Homo sapiens: one gene and its partners. The protein of the gene in region 3 purifies or fractionates together with the protein of the main gene of each other region. This does not show direct contact. Each region holds a gene or a part of one and is shown on either strand. Other genes may lie near its edges.

Region 1 (3,500 bases), on a different chromosome or scaffold from region 3:
ACCCGAAAATTTTGAAAGGTTAAGGATCTCACCTTACTTCATATATCCATCCCTCGACAGCACAGGATTAAGTACAGGGGTATTGGTCTTTAAACTTATCCTTAGCAACTCTAGTTTTACAAACACACACACACCCTGTGGCACATGGTAGGCCTAACCTAATCTGGTGAAGAACAGATCTGGAGATGTAAAGCACGTCCTGTGCCATAGGATTAGACAACCCTCACCTAATCTTGGCTTGCTCTCTGGCCTTTTCACCGGGCCCAGCCTCTCCTAGCCTCTGTGTACCACCATTTCCTGTTTAGACTAATTCCCAATCTTCCAGTAGAAGGCAATCAAGTCATGGGGCCACCCAGTTAAAACCTAGTCTCCCATAAAACATTTTCAAGGCAGAGGGGGTTTCAAGAGGACACTATGGCAGAAAAGCCAGCTCTTATTGGCAAAAATGAGGTAGTTCAATAGGCTGTGCACTCCAAATAGTTGCTCTCCACGGTGGCAAAAACAACAAAAAGTAATTCCTGCTGCGCAGACCTGGAGCTGCTGCTGGCTATCCCTGAGATTGCTCATGTACCTGAGAACACAGTGCAGGAAATGAGGGCCTTAGATTAAAATATACAAAAATACAAAACCAGAATATTTATATTAAGGAAAAAAAGTTAAAATGCACAAGATACGTCATTCGCACACAGCTAGTGCAGTTGGCATCCTGGAGAAAGTGGGACCCAAGGTGCAGTATCCAAGGGAGCAAATAAATAAAATCACATTGGCCCAGAATGGGGCGGGGGTGAGCATAGAGCAGCAGGTCTGCAGCTGTTCCCCCAAACACCCTTTTTGCCATCATCATTACCCATTGCTTGGGACAGCTGCCAGCACCCTATCCCAAAAGTGGGTATGAGGATACAAGATGTGAAAAAAAAACAATGCTTACTCCTGAGAGATCTCCTTCCACAGAATGTAGTGGCTTGGCTCCATGAATCTGGTCTTATACTTAATCATTTCACTCTGGCATGGGAATTATTATATATCCTTCTTTAAAAGGAAAACAACTTCCCTATCCAGGCCACTTTCAAAAGCTGGAAATTCTGGGGATGGAGACTCAAAGTATGCAGGTTGTAGGGTGATTCCCCCCTCCTGGTTGCCCCCAGAACCCTCACTTGCATTTGGACAGAGCATGGTTGGAGTTCCTTTGACTCACCCTTTCCCCCCACCTAGAGGGAAGAAAGGGTGATGGTGTGAACCCAAGCCTGAGATACATGGCAGTGCCAACTAGCCCCAATGCACCCTATTCCCACTTTCTCCACTCTGCCTGCTCCTCAAAACTTCCTGATAGCAAAAGAATAGCCCCCACCCATTGTGGCTCAATTCTGTGCCTCCGGGAGCAGGGTAGGGCTGTGGATTTCTTCTTCTTCCTCTCGAAAGTAGGTTGGCTTTCCCTGTGCACTAGGGCCCTGCTGGGCCTTCAGCGGACATGAGGCTACCATATGGCTGATGCTCTGGCAGAAGTGGCACTTCTTGGGCTGGGGTGGCAGCTTGCATTCCTTGGCATGATGATCTAGACCTCCACAGTTGTAGCACCTAGTACAAAGCAAGATCGTAAAAGTAAGAGAAAGGAGCAAGAAGAGGCCAGATGCCTCCCACGAATGAGGACACCTGGGCTCTGGTACAGGTTTGTCACTTACTTCCCTTCCCAGAGACCAAACTTCCCACTTGCAAAAGGAGGACTATTACTAAATGATCTCTAAGTCCTTTCCACATCTAATTGTCTAGGTGATCTCTTCAGATTCATGTCAACTTGAAAATACCAAGATACCAGAAATATAAGTTACTGACCCCAACTAGGAACTGCAACTTGGGGGATAGGAGAGATTCTTCCATACCCTTAATATAGGAGAAATTAAAGAAGCCAAATTATAGTATCTGTTCAGAGCTAAGGGGCTTTAAGCCCAAGCAAGATTAAGGAAACCAGCCATTTGCAGACCTGGTAAAGCAGCAACAGATATAGATAATACTGTCTTGTCCCACCATTTGCAAATCTATGATCTCCTTTAATTCTAAAACCATCCTAGGATGTTAGTATCACTGCCTCACTTAACAATTGAGGCTTAGAGACCACAGAGCAAACTTACTTGTCCCAAGTAGCACTAAGTCACCCCCAGTGGCCTCCTCACCTACTGCCCTTGCCCACACCTATTGCAGGCGCTCAGCCTTCCAGATGCTGCCAGGGACCACAGGCTTCCCTTTGTCTTTTGCAGTGTGACCCAAAAAGTGACAGGATTGGGAGACTGGGGATGCCCTTAGCAACCTATATAAGCTGCCTTCCAATCCATACCTGTCTCCTTTTGATCTGCGCTTCTGCATGCTCTTTCCTTTTGGCCGCCTCTCACTCCCAATACAGAATACTCCACCAGGTCCGGTGACACGGATGGATTCCAGACCCTTGGCTGACTTCTTAAAGGTGAACTCCACTGCCTCACCCTCCTTCAAGCTCCGGAACCCTTCCATGTGCAGCTTACTCTGGTGAAGGGAAATGCAGTAAATTTTAACATTAATTTCCATTATTATACCAAAAGACAAGGAACTCTTATTCCTGTAGGGTAGGAATCAAATGTGATGGTACTCCTATTTTACTGGTAAGGAAACTGACTCAAAGAGTCACTACGATTAAGAACAACAAAGTCTACCAGTACATTAACAAAAATCGTAATTATATAAGCAGATGCCATGACATTTTTGTAGCTATTCAGGTTTAAAGTTCTTAATAAAATAGAACAGAGGGCCGGGTACGGTGGCTCACACCTATAATCCTAGCACTTTGAGAGGCTGAGGCGGGAGGATCACCTGAAGTCAGGAGTTCGAGACCAGCTTGGCCAACATGGTGAAACTCTGTCTCTACTAAAAATAAAAAAAATTAGCTGGGCGTGGTGGCGGGCACCTGTAATCCCAGCTACTTGGGAGACTGAGGCAGGAGAATTGCTTGAACCCAGGAAGCAAAGGTTGCAGTGAGCTGAGATCACACTATTGCACTCCAGCCTGGGCGACAGAGTGAGACTTTGTCTCAAAAACAAACAAACAAACAACAACAAACAGAAAAATTTGTAAATACAAGCATTTGGAAGAAATCAACAAATATAAAATTACGAAATTTAAAGTGTCACACTATAGAGGTTGCAGTGAGCCAAGATGGCGCCTTTGCACTCCAGCCTGGGCAACACAGCAAGACTTCGTCTCAAAAATAAATAAATAAAATAAAAGTAAAAATAGCTGGGCATGGTGGCTCAGCCACACACGGTGGCTTACGCCTTTAACCCCAGCACTTTGGGAGGCTGAAGCAGGTGGATCACGAGGTCCAGAGTTCGAGACCAGCCTGGCCAACATGGTGAAACCCTGTCTCTACTAAAAATACAAAAATTAGCCGGGTGTGGTGGTGGGCGCCTGTAATCCCAGCTACTTGGGCAGTTGGGGCAGGAGAGTTGCTTGAACCCCGGAGGCAGAGGTTTCAG
Region 2 (3,500 bases), on a different chromosome or scaffold from region 3:
ACGTTTTGGATATTGAATTTTTTTCTGAGTTTGGAGTATTTGCGTTAAACTTACCAGCTGAACATCCCCAATCCAAAAAATCCAAAATACCCTAATGAGTATTTCCTTTAAGCACCATGTGGGCACTCAAAAAGCTTTGGATTTGGGGGAGGAGGGATCCTCCACCTGTAAGGACAACTAGAGGTTTCCGGGCTGCAGACCTGGCGCCACCGTGACCGTAAGCCCCTGCAGACCTGGCGCCACCGTGGCCGTAAGCCCCTGACGACCTGGCGCCACCGTGGCCGTAAGCCCCTGCAGACCTGGCACCACCGTGGCCGTAAGCCCCTGCAGACCTGGCGCCACCGTGGCCGTAAGCCCCTGCAGACCTGGCGCCACCGTGGCCGTAAGCCCCTGCAGACCTGGCGCCACCGTGGCCGTAAGCCCCTGCAGACCTGGCGCCACCGTGACTGTAAGCCCCGGATGACCTGGCACCACCATGGCCACGGTTTCCCAAGCCACGGTCTGGAGGAAGTCAGCAACTCCACGCTGACCCCACCCATCTGGTGAAAGTCTCTACCTTCTACAGGAATGCCCCTAGTTTCACCCTCCCCTGGTCCTAACCTCCAAGTTCCATTTTAGTGACTACAGCAATAAACGTGTGCCTCAAAATATTTTTCAAAAAACTAAAGATCAAAAAACACTTAACTTTCGTAGGGTGGACGTCAGCTGCATGCCTGACTGACAAGTTAAACCACGCTGCTCTCTGGGGCCCCAGCCAGCGCCCAGCCTGACCACTGCGCATGGGGAACGGTTATTCCCCGCAGAGCCACCGCCCCCACATTCACTCTCTCTACAGAACACTATGGCCCAATACCCAGGGATGTGTTTAAGGAAAACTGGGATGAAGGGAGTTATTCGGATGTGTTAGGTTAAACAGCATCCTCTAGTTTTTATTCAACTGGGAAAACGCTTAAGTGAGGGCCATTTTTTTTAAAGCCCAAATTGAAACAACCTAATATCCTGTTTTTCAGTACTCTATAAATAAATCCAATAATCTCTACTGAAACACAAATAAAAAAAGTGTATCTTGAATTTATAGCAGTCAAAACAGAGATAAGAAATAAGAAGAGCTAAACAATAAGCAAATGTGAATTCTTCTAGAGAATCAGGAAGGAGGTTACCCACCTTTCTTTCTCGTCTGAGATTCTCGGGACCCAGGGGGCGCATTCATATCACCCGTGCCCTGGAAGTATACATATTTCTTCACAGTTATCAGATTGGGGGCAAACTTCCAGACATCTTCTCGATCATCAATAATGCAAACCATTGAGTCTCCACAAGGAAAGAGATTTCTACAAGTGAAAATGCATAATTTACAAAAAATAATAATGAAAAGTTGTAGTCATTCATCTTGCCAAGCGTAACAGTTTAAGATTCTAATCCACATGTAACCAGCAGACAGCAGGTTAATCAGACGGACACCAACCGCCCCGAAGCCCTTTCTGTTTGGGTCGCATTTAAACCTCAGTAACATCTTCAGTGCTGTTTCCGATTCTCCTTCAGGCAGGAGTTCCCAAACTGTTTCTTAAAGCGCCAGAGTCACTATTTTAGGCATTACGGGCCACGGGGACGAAACCCAACTCTGACCGTGTGGGCGTGACCATGTTTCAATAAAACTTCATGTACAAACAAGGCTGGGTAGCCTAAAGGCCAGAATTTGCTGACTCTGTAAACAGACCAGGCTAGGCGCTGTGTGGCTAATGCCTGCAATTCCAGCACTTCGGGAGGTCTTGGCAGGAGGGTCTCTTGAGCCTAGGAGTCTGACACCAGCCTGGGCAACATAGGAAGACCCTGTCTCTACAAAACATACAAAAGTTAGACAGGTGTGGGGGTGTGCGCCCGTAGTCCCGGCTACTCAGAAGGCTGAAGTGGGAGGATAGCTTGAGCCCAGGAAGTCAAGACTGTGGTGAGCTGAGACCACACTACTGCACTTAAGCCTGGGCGACCGAGCCAGACCGTCTCAAAAACAAAAAAACAAAAACCAGACCCAGTGCTGATGCAGAATTTCTAAGCGGACCTCCAGCTACCTCCATGCAAACCACAGTACCCACCACTGGGGCCTATCCTGGGCATGTCCCCATTCGATCCTATCATTCTGCCTTCGGGTGACTTTTCCCTGTAACACACTAACAGCACCTCTCATTCTCTTTTGCCCTGATTAATCTACTCACTCTGGCGCTAACTAGCAAAAAGGAGGTTTCTGAAGTAAATACTTTCAGATTCTCTTCTTAGTTAACATTAGCAAGCATAGGTCTCACAGTCTGTGGGGACTGGCCACCGAGAACCAGGAAGTGGCTGAAGCTGAGGCTGTGGCCACCAGGCTCCTCGGGAAAACAAGCCACACCTGACATGGTGTTACATCAGCAAGGACGGACTTCCGGGTGGAAATGGGGAAACTCCTCGAATACAGTGGGCAAGAAACGTCAAAGCATATAAAAGAATATTAAAAAGTCTTTGCGGAGGGGCGGGGAGCGGCCTGCCCTGTCAAAAAGGCTCAGAGGAGCTGACAGGAAGGGGCTCTGGAGCTGATGGAAAGGAAGAAATGGCAAAAGGCAAAAATATGGGCATAATAGTCAAGTGACTTAGGATTTTGTAAATTATTAGTAGGATTAACACAAGCAAGCTCCTAAGAAAATTATCAACCTCAGATGCTGACGCTGATGTCAAGAACTGCCGCTAAACCAGTGGCCCCGCAGAGCTGCTGAGCTTGTGCGTGGGGTGGGGCTATTCACATTCCTCTGCCCACTCGGGTCCTTTCGACTGCCACCTCCCTGATGCCATCCCGTCCCTACGCCTGCCCTCCTGGGTTCTGGGCCCGAAAGTCCAGTCGCTGAGTTCCCCAGGAGCCCTGGCCATTCCCTGGATACTCAGAGGCAAAAGGGCCAAATCCTTCACAGCTGGCTACTGTGGGGACACACGCCTGCCTCCTGCCTCTCCAACCACAAATCTCGATGCCAGGTCTTCGCATAGGAATGAAAATTTGGAGGTCAAGGGACTAGAATGATCACATATGCCAGGGTTGGTTAAGCAAACAGATACACAACGTCAGGTGGCGGGCTGACATCGAATCAGTGCCGTCTGACAGAGATGAGGCAGAGAGGATGACAGATACACAACGTCAGGTGGCGGGCTGACATCGAATTGTGCTGTCTAACAGAGACGAGGCAGAGAGGATGACAGTCCCCGCCTCCACAGACACAAAAGCCCAGCTCAAGGGCAGTTTCAGGGCAGGACAGGGCTATTGGGATGGGGCAGAGCCTGGATTGGGGGCCCTGCACAAGCACCAGGGCTCAGGCACCTGGGAGACAGTGGGAGTACAGGTTAGAAAGGAACTTTCTAAGTATTCTGAGGCTAACAATGAAAACTGGAAAGGGGATGTTAAATTCCTAAAAAACATCAATACAGAAATACTGCTCTAGGCCGGGTGCAGTGGCTCATGCCTGTAATCCCAACACTTTGGG
Region 3 (3,500 bases):
TTTTGAGCTTCTATAGTGCTTGTTTGCAAAACATGATAAATTTAGGTTAATCTCCAAGCTTTAACATAGGAAGTATAACTTCAGTGTTTTTTTTCTTGCCATATCTAGGTGGAGTCCGCAAAGAAATTGTGAGGCTCAGGTGTCTGTTTTATTTTATAAAGCATTTTGAAACTTTTGAGAACCAACAAAAAGAGAATGCAAATACCAAGTGTTATTTCTTTCTACTTCCAAATCTCAAGCCCTAAATTGAATACCATTTAATTCACTGTTGCCAATATGGCACTCTGCGTTCCTTTTTTGATAGAAAGTTTTGCCTTTTGAGCATTTGAAGCCCTAGCTTTGTGATATAGCTGAACAGGGTGGGCAGGCTGGTGGGGACAAGGAAGAACACGAGGACGAGAGTAGCTGCCCGGCTCCAGCAGCACCCATGCCCTCGGCACGCACAGACTTAACGGTATTGTCTTCTCTTTATCTCCTTAGGAATACAAACAGAAGCTTGCACGAGTAACCCAGGTCCGCAAGGAACTGAAATCCCATATTCAGAGCTTGCCAGACCTCTCACTGCTGCCCAACGTCACAGGGGGCTTAGCCCCCCTGCCCTCTGCTGGGGACCTGTTTTCAACTGACTAGGATGGGTGTCATGTCCCAGATTTCTGTTTGTACCAGCAGAAAGAAGAGGGCAAGTCATGGTTGGAAATAACCTTCTAGCCCCTGGTTCTATCCCTTCTTCCGCCCAGCCCCCCAGCCTCAAGAAAGAACCTCAGACTCTGATTCTCCTCTTCAGCCTCTCATCTTGAGCACAGTTCAGAACAGTGGCGACTGGAATCTGGTTTATATTCATATTTGCAAAGACTACAGACTTTTTCTCCCACTTCATATTTTCATGCCCCCCTGTTGGTTTTCCATTCTTAACTGTCTCCTTATACCTAAGAAGTTATGAAAATCATGTGTACTTCTGGAAGCTTTCGAAAGAATCTTGTCCCTCATGACAGCATTTTATCATGAAAGCAGCTTCTCCTTTCTGGGCTGGGCTTGTTCAAGTTCGGTGTGGGCTTCCACTAAGGCACTTGTCCTGGAGACGTTGGCTTTCCCAGCTGCATCTGCCCCAAAAGGTTGTAGGCACAGCTGTCGTAGCGTTGCCATAAAGAGTTTGCCAAATCTCTGATCCTCCCTTTCCATTGCTTCTCCTAGTGATGCACGAAGATTAGGTGCATTTATTTTGTAAACAGATTGGAGAATCTAGCAATAAGATTCAAAGCTAATCTGGAGCATAAAGGCACAGTTCAGAGACAGAATAACAGGGATCACAAGCATGAATTAAAAGGAATTTATTTGCTTCAAGTTCCTAGATACAACCTTCCCATGCTGCACTTCTCCACTGTCGGAGCACGTTCCGAAAAACAGAATGCCTTGATCCCTGGTGGGTGCGAAGGCAGTTGTTAGGGATGGCAGGCATTGGTGGGCTCCAAAAGATGAAGGCCCCACACACAGGTGTGCTGCATTTGGGATCTGTGTGGGTGTTTCTTGGACCCTTTCTTCTGGGAGTAGGGTACACACTAACGTTTAATCCGCTGTCTGGGTGCATGTCCACAGTACGGTGGCTAAACTCGAACATCACTGCAAATAGGACGCTGAGCAGGTCCGTCTGTCATGTCACGCCACTGCACAGGTCCTTGTCCCCACACGACGGGGAGTACTTGCGTCAGATGTTATTGAATAGCTCGTCTCGGGCAGGGGAAGCGGGGAGTTGGGGATATTAATTGGGGGTTTTAATTCTATTATCATGTCAGCTGACATTATGACTATATAATGTAGTTAGAGACAATTTTTATCTTGCTTATAGTAAAGGTTCAGCCTGCCAATTGTAAATCATTCTAATTTGGCAGGCTTATTTTTGACATTGGAAAGGGCAGAAAGCGATTTGCCCCAGTAGTGTAATAGGAGTTATAGACCAGAGGCTGAAACCCAAACTATATAAAAAGGAATTCAGTGGAGGGGGCTTTGTAATCTCCATTAATTTGTGTTGCTACTTCCAGGATCACCAAAAATTACATGTAATTTTACATGTTAAACACATTGAAACATAACCTATGTTTATAAAGCATAACGGGCTTCCCTTCCAGAAGCTCTCCTGCTTGTCATGAAGTGAGAACAATGAAAAGTCATAGCAGATACTCAGTTTAACTCTGTGTAGAACCTAGTAGTGTTTGAGCTGTTATTCAGATTTGAATTCAGACTGTGTGTTGTTTGCTTATGGACACTGCCTGTCGTTCTGTCACTGTTAAATTAATGAGTCTATAAGGTTTTTCTTCCAGAGGCCATAGGTGACATCACTAAAATTGCAAGATAAATTGTAATCTTTGCTGCTGCTGCACTCCCCAACCTCTCCCCCACCCCCCGTGGTGTGCTGCTTTCTAGATGAGCGTGTTTTGGAGCAGGCCCATCTGGGACACTCTATGCTTTCACCAAGGAAGTGCGATCTGAGCAGCCACAATCCAGCCAAAAGAGGATCGTAGATATTTGCTCTGATCAACTAGATGAAAATATAGCAGAATGGATTTAGCCCACTGCTCTGTTTTATCCAACTGAGTCTCTGACCAGCAATTGGTGCATAATTATTACAGCAAAAGTTAAGAAATGAAACTGTAGCAATTATGTAAATGAATGTGTTGGCCTCTTAATACCTGTTACTAGTGGACTTCCTGTGAGGAAGTTAGTTTTTTGTTTTGATGAAATGCTTTCGTTTTTTAAATCTTAATTCTGCTGTCCACATCCTCCCAAAGTGTGCTTACTTCATTTGTTTAATTTAAATGAACTTTCCTCCTTGTATGTATGAGGTGACTTGGTGGGTGGGGTGGGTGGTTTTTGTTTTTGTGTTTTTTCTTTCTTAGGGCATCTGTAGGCCTCAAAGGACCTTTCCTTTAGGTCATATTCCTCAGAAAGTCTTCAATCTTCCCTTGTTTTTGTTTGTTTGTTTTTCTTAAAGAATATTTTCAAAGCTTAAATTTGTATATTAATTTAGGACTATTTAGAAGTATAGGCTGTCGTTGGCGGCAGCAGTATATTCTGAAATGTCTCATAGATATATATTTTTGAATAAAGATGGTGTTGTTGAACAACATTGTGTGATTTTTTTTTTAAACTACCCTGTTACTGAAAACAGTGCCTTTCTTTGTAAGCAGTGGGTGATTAGTAATCACCAATAGAGAATGTGCTGTCGGCACAGAATCTTGTCCCTTGGGAGTTTTTGTGTCTGTTAGCGGCACATAAATACTCAGCATTTACGTAGTATTTTCTGGTTCTTTCCAGGGGCTTAATTAGCTTTAATTAGGCAGTCCACACAGTACCCATGAGAGGTGCCGCCATAGTTTTACCCTCATTGTACAGAAGTGGGAACTGATGGAGAGAGATTAAATGACTCTTCCCCCATACTTCACAGCCAATCTCTGACAGATTAAAACTTGGAAGTTCTTTGATTTTAGCGCCTTTGTTCACACCAG
Region 4 (4,197 bases), on a different chromosome or scaffold from region 3:
GTCATTCAAGACAAAAATCTACCAGCTATCTTAGATGCCTCTCACATCTCACTAGCTGACCTTCATTCTTTTTTTTTAACTTTATCTTTTTTTTTCAGGCAGATAAGACTTTCTTTTTTTAGTCTGTTTTTATTATATTGTAATTTTCTTGACTGATTATCACCACCGAATCTCCTGTATGTAGTACAATTCTAGCCATGTAGTAGGAACTCATTAAGACCTATGCTGAATGAATCCACAAATAATTTATTACTAAACATTTTAATTTCAAACGCTAAAAAAAAAAAAAAAAAAAAGCAGTTTTCTCTGCAATTCCTGTCACTGCTCCAAGTTTCTTACAAGAAGGAGGTTAAGGTTTGGGTAGAAGGGGGCCAAAGATGGAAACTGAGGAGCAAGTGTAAGATGCAGAAGAGCTGGAAGACAAAGGGTTGTAGTCAACGAGTGAGCTCTTGGAGTTTAAAGTTTCACAGACAGTACTTACTGTAACTTTAAAATTTCAGACACAGCACTTACTGTAATTTTCTTGTCTCTAAAGCAGGCTTTGAACCTGGATAGATTTGGATAGAACCCCGACTTTGTCATTTGCTAACTGCAAGGCTTTGAATAAACGATTTAATTTCTCTGCGTCTGTTTCCTCATCTGTGAAATGAGGATAACAATACTGTCCACCTTACAACAATGTTAATAATCGGAAAAAGGACATAGGTAACGTGCCTGGCCTGTAGCTCACCAAATATTAGGTGGTGTTGCGATTAAGATGCCTTAGAACAATTCAGTTCTCCGACTCTCTAGACCTGAGGAACCTTCCCAGGGAACCCCTAACTTTCCCAGACCACACTGTCAGATATTCTATAGGCCCCGCCCCTCCAGAGCCTCCGAGTCCTCCCTAGCCCACCCGAGCCCGGTCCCCAGCATTACCTGACCCATAGCGCACGTCGTGTGAGTGCAGTCGGACGTTGTGGCGCGTATTGAGTAGCTTCACCACGGAGCCGCAAGTAACGACACCCAGGCTGGACGCTCCCACAGCGCTCCACAAACCCCCCAACAACAGCAGAGGTACTACAGCCATCCTAACTGTATCGCGGAGCCCCAAATCTTCGAAGAAAACTCGGCCCCTCCCCGGAACCGGAAGCTAATGGCGAAACCACGGAGAGAAGGAAGTGAAGAAGCCCGAGTCTGATCTTTATGGTTTATTTGACTAGAGCGGCCTGAGAAACCGGCTGAGCCTGGTTACTTACGATACTCTCGCTCTGTTCCAGGGGCTCAGTGACAGCTGCCTTCCTGAGCCGCTTCGGTTACCTTTCGCACCCACGAGACGAAAGCTTCCGAGAGCGGGAGAGAGAACAAGAAATGGCCCGCCCACTCCCGGTGACAGGGAGCCGGAAATGACGTAGCACGTTGACGCAGCAGCGGCGGCGGTGGCGGCGGAGGGGCCGTGCGGTGGGTCCGTACTATCTTTTCCCAGTCTCGGTTCGACGACTCCATTTTCCTCGGTGGGGGCTTAGCGCACTGGAGGAGCGGCGGGCTTCAGACAGGTAAAGTTCCGACTGGAGAGCGTGTTTCTCGCAGGAGTCAGGTGGGGAACCGGGCTCCTAGGGCCTGGTCACGTAAGGGAAGAGGCAGTGGGGAGCCGTATGCGGGAAGAAGGGGGAGCCTGGCCTTCCCTGCTCTATGGGGGGAAGGGGGAGGAAAGCGCTGTAGTTGCTCAGAGTCCGAAAGCTTTTCCCAGCCCAGTGACACCCGGAACCCGTGAATCGGGTGGCACGTTGAATCAACAGGCTTCCTGGCATCCCGTCCTTCTCTCCGCAGGTTTTTAAAACTGGGCCACGCAAAAGGATTGGGGATGGAAGGGACCTGGGGCTTCTGAGCCAGGATCAGGTGATCGAGTTGTTTGTTCTGGGGATATGAATCCTGTGGAGCTTTCAGCAGCTCGGCCATCAGGCTAGAGGGCGATGCCAAATTCCAGCTCTTTACATATTGCTGAATAATACAAATAGAACTTTTTGTAGATGGTTGCATCCTTCATCCCTTTCTAAAGATCGAAGGTCTTGTAGAAGTCCTAAAGCCCGTCCATTCTCTATAGATTCATTTCCTCAAACGTTTGCCAGAGGCCTATCATGAACATCAAAATTAGTTATTAAGTCAAAACTCCATCTTCTAGTTTCTACCTTTCTCCTCAGGCACTCCTTTGAACCAGCTGGAGAAGTTAATTTTCCTGGGTTGTTGCAAGAACTGATACTTATTTCAGAGGGCTAAGATCTCTGAAAATACTTCCGTGGAAATTCACTGTAATATCAAAAGTAACAAGGGTGTATGAAGCTACATCATTAATGAGCATTAGGGAGTGTAAACAATATTGAATTTGATTAATTTCTTCGGAAAAATGTCTGGTTCCACTGTTTATCTGGAAGTTACCAGTTTGTAAGTCTTCAGTGTTTTGATTACAGAAACATAACTGCTCTTCCATCAGCTGTGAATTTAGAGCCCTTTTTTACGAGTAATGTCCCTTTCACCAGTACAAGTACATTTTTATTCACTTGGCTTGTGTGGCTGCTAGATTGGATTAGCATAGCCTTGCAACTCTAGGAGGTTTTAACTTCATCAGGAGATTAATTACATCAGAAAGTGGTACCGTCTGGAGAGGCTTAGTCAAATTTTACAGTTCTTCCTCTGAAAGCCTACCTAGTGTGGTGGAAACATGATCTTTGTAGGCAAATACGTTTGCCCTGATTCTATATTCTTGACCTTAATAAATGGCACTACCATCAGTCCTGCCTGTAATCCTTGTCTTCCTTCCTGTCCACTATTTCCCAATAAAATCAGTCACCAAATCCTGTCTCTCCCTGAAACTGTTCCCATCAGCATACAAATTATGTTCTGGTATCCTTCACATCCCTCTCCAATTACCATGCCAATTTTTTAAATTTCCATTCATAGATTTCTACCTGTACCAACTCAGCTTTCTCAACTTTCATTCACTCTTCATTTTATACCAATCTGGCTTCTCTTCTGCCCACTCCATTTTTTTTTTTTTTTTTGTGGAGACAGGGTCTTGCTCTGTTGCCCAGGTTGGAGTGCAGTGGCCCCATCATAGCTCACTGCCACCTGGAACTCCTGAGCTCAAGCAGTCCTCCTGAGGCAGCTTCTAGTAATCAAGTGCCACCACATCTACTTTGCCCACTCCATTGAAGTTGCTCTTATCAAGGTCACCAGTGACTTCTATGTTGCCAAATCCAATGGATACTTTGTTCTCATATTCCTCTGTCTCTGCAATATTCAACATAGTTACTCCTGCCTCCAAACTTTCATCTTGGCTTTATTGACATTTCACTCTTGGATTTTCTCCATTTCTCCGGCTGTTCCTTCTGAGTCTCATTTGCTAGCAACTTTTGCTCTCTATCTAATGTCTAAATGCTGGGGCTGGTCGCAGTGGCTCATGCCTATAATCCCAGCACTTTGGGAGGTCGAGGTGGGCAGATCACTTGAGGTCAGGAGTTCACAACCAGCCTGGCCAGCATGGTGAAACCCCATCTCTACTAAAAATACAAAAACTAGCCGGGCGTGGCGACACGCCTGTAATCCCAGCTACTTGGGAGGCTGAGGCAGGAGAATCACTTGAACCAGGGAGGCAGAGGTGCAGTGAGCAGAGATCATGCCACTGCACTCCAGCATGGGCAACAGAACAAAACTCCGTCTCAAAATATATGTATATCTACATATGTTGGAATTCTCACAGGAATCCCGAGCCTTCTACATGCTTCCCTTTAGGTAACCCAGCCCCATGGCTTTAATTACCACCTGAAAGTTGGCAACTCCAAAGTTTAAATCTCTAGTCCAGCCCTCTCCTCTATGTTGCAGAATCACGCGTCAAAAATGCCTGTTTAATTATCTCCATTTGGATATTTCTTAGGCACCCAAAGCTAACATAACCAAAAGAAAGTTTTGGTTTTCTCATCATTGCAAACCTTATCCTCCCGTTTCACTGAGTGGTGCTCCTATCCGCAGGGTTACCAAAGATAGACCTCTGAGAATCATCTTTGTTCTTCTCCTTTACTACTCCTCTTCCCCAGTCTTTCAGTAAGTCTTGTCACTTCCACTTGCAGAATGTTTTTGTAATCTGTCTTCTATTCTCCATCTTCACTTTTACCACCTTATTCCAAGCCACCACCATCTTTTGCCTGGGCTACCACAACAGTA

Evidence for each region.
Region 1: the proteins of RPRD1B (region 3) and LIN28A purify together in Homo sapiens (co-immunoprecipitation; one large-scale study listed by IntAct). This does not show direct contact.
Region 2: the proteins of RPRD1B (region 3) and CTDP1 purify together in Homo sapiens (affinity purification with mass spectrometry; 4 studies listed by BioGRID and IntAct, with this or other methods). This does not show direct contact.
Region 4: the proteins of RPRD1B (region 3) and SUPT6H purify together in Homo sapiens (affinity purification with mass spectrometry; 4 studies listed by BioGRID and IntAct, with this or other methods). This does not show direct contact.

Annotation. Positions count from the first base shown.
Region 1 is NC_000001.11:26,424,317-26,427,816, reverse strand, and holds part of LIN28A (protein lin-28 homolog A), read right to left. Parts: intron 2,515-3,500; coding exon 2,330-2,514; intron 1,576-2,329; coding exon 1,359-1,575; 3' UTR 1-1,358. UniProt on the Homo sapiens protein: RNA-binding protein that inhibits processing of pre-let-7 miRNAs and regulates translation of mRNAs that control developmental timing, pluripotency and metabolism.
Region 2 is NC_000018.10:79,710,803-79,714,302, reverse strand, and holds part of CTDP1 (RNA polymerase II subunit A C-terminal domain phosphatase), read right to left. Parts: intron 1,332-3,500; coding exon 1,165-1,331; intron 1-1,164. UniProt on the Homo sapiens protein: Processively dephosphorylates 'Ser-2' and 'Ser-5' of the heptad repeats YSPTSPS in the C-terminal domain of the largest RNA polymerase II subunit. This promotes the activity of RNA polymerase II.
Region 3 is NC_000020.11:38,089,246-38,092,745, forward strand, and holds the end of RPRD1B (regulation of nuclear pre-mRNA domain-containing protein 1B), read left to right. Parts: intron 1-480; coding exon 481-630; 3' UTR 631-3,119; downstream 3,120-3,500. UniProt on the Homo sapiens protein: Interacts with phosphorylated C-terminal heptapeptide repeat domain (CTD) of the largest RNA polymerase II subunit POLR2A, and participates in dephosphorylation of the CTD by RPAP2. Transcriptional regulator which enhances expression of CCND1.
Region 4 is NC_000017.11:28,660,808-28,665,004, forward strand, and holds the start of SUPT6H (transcription elongation factor SPT6), read left to right. Parts: upstream 1-1,397; 5' UTR 1,398-1,535; intron 1,536-1,809; exon of another isoform or gene 1,810-1,878; intron 1,879-4,197. Other genes in the region: SDF2 (stromal cell-derived factor 2), read right to left, coding at 919-1,069.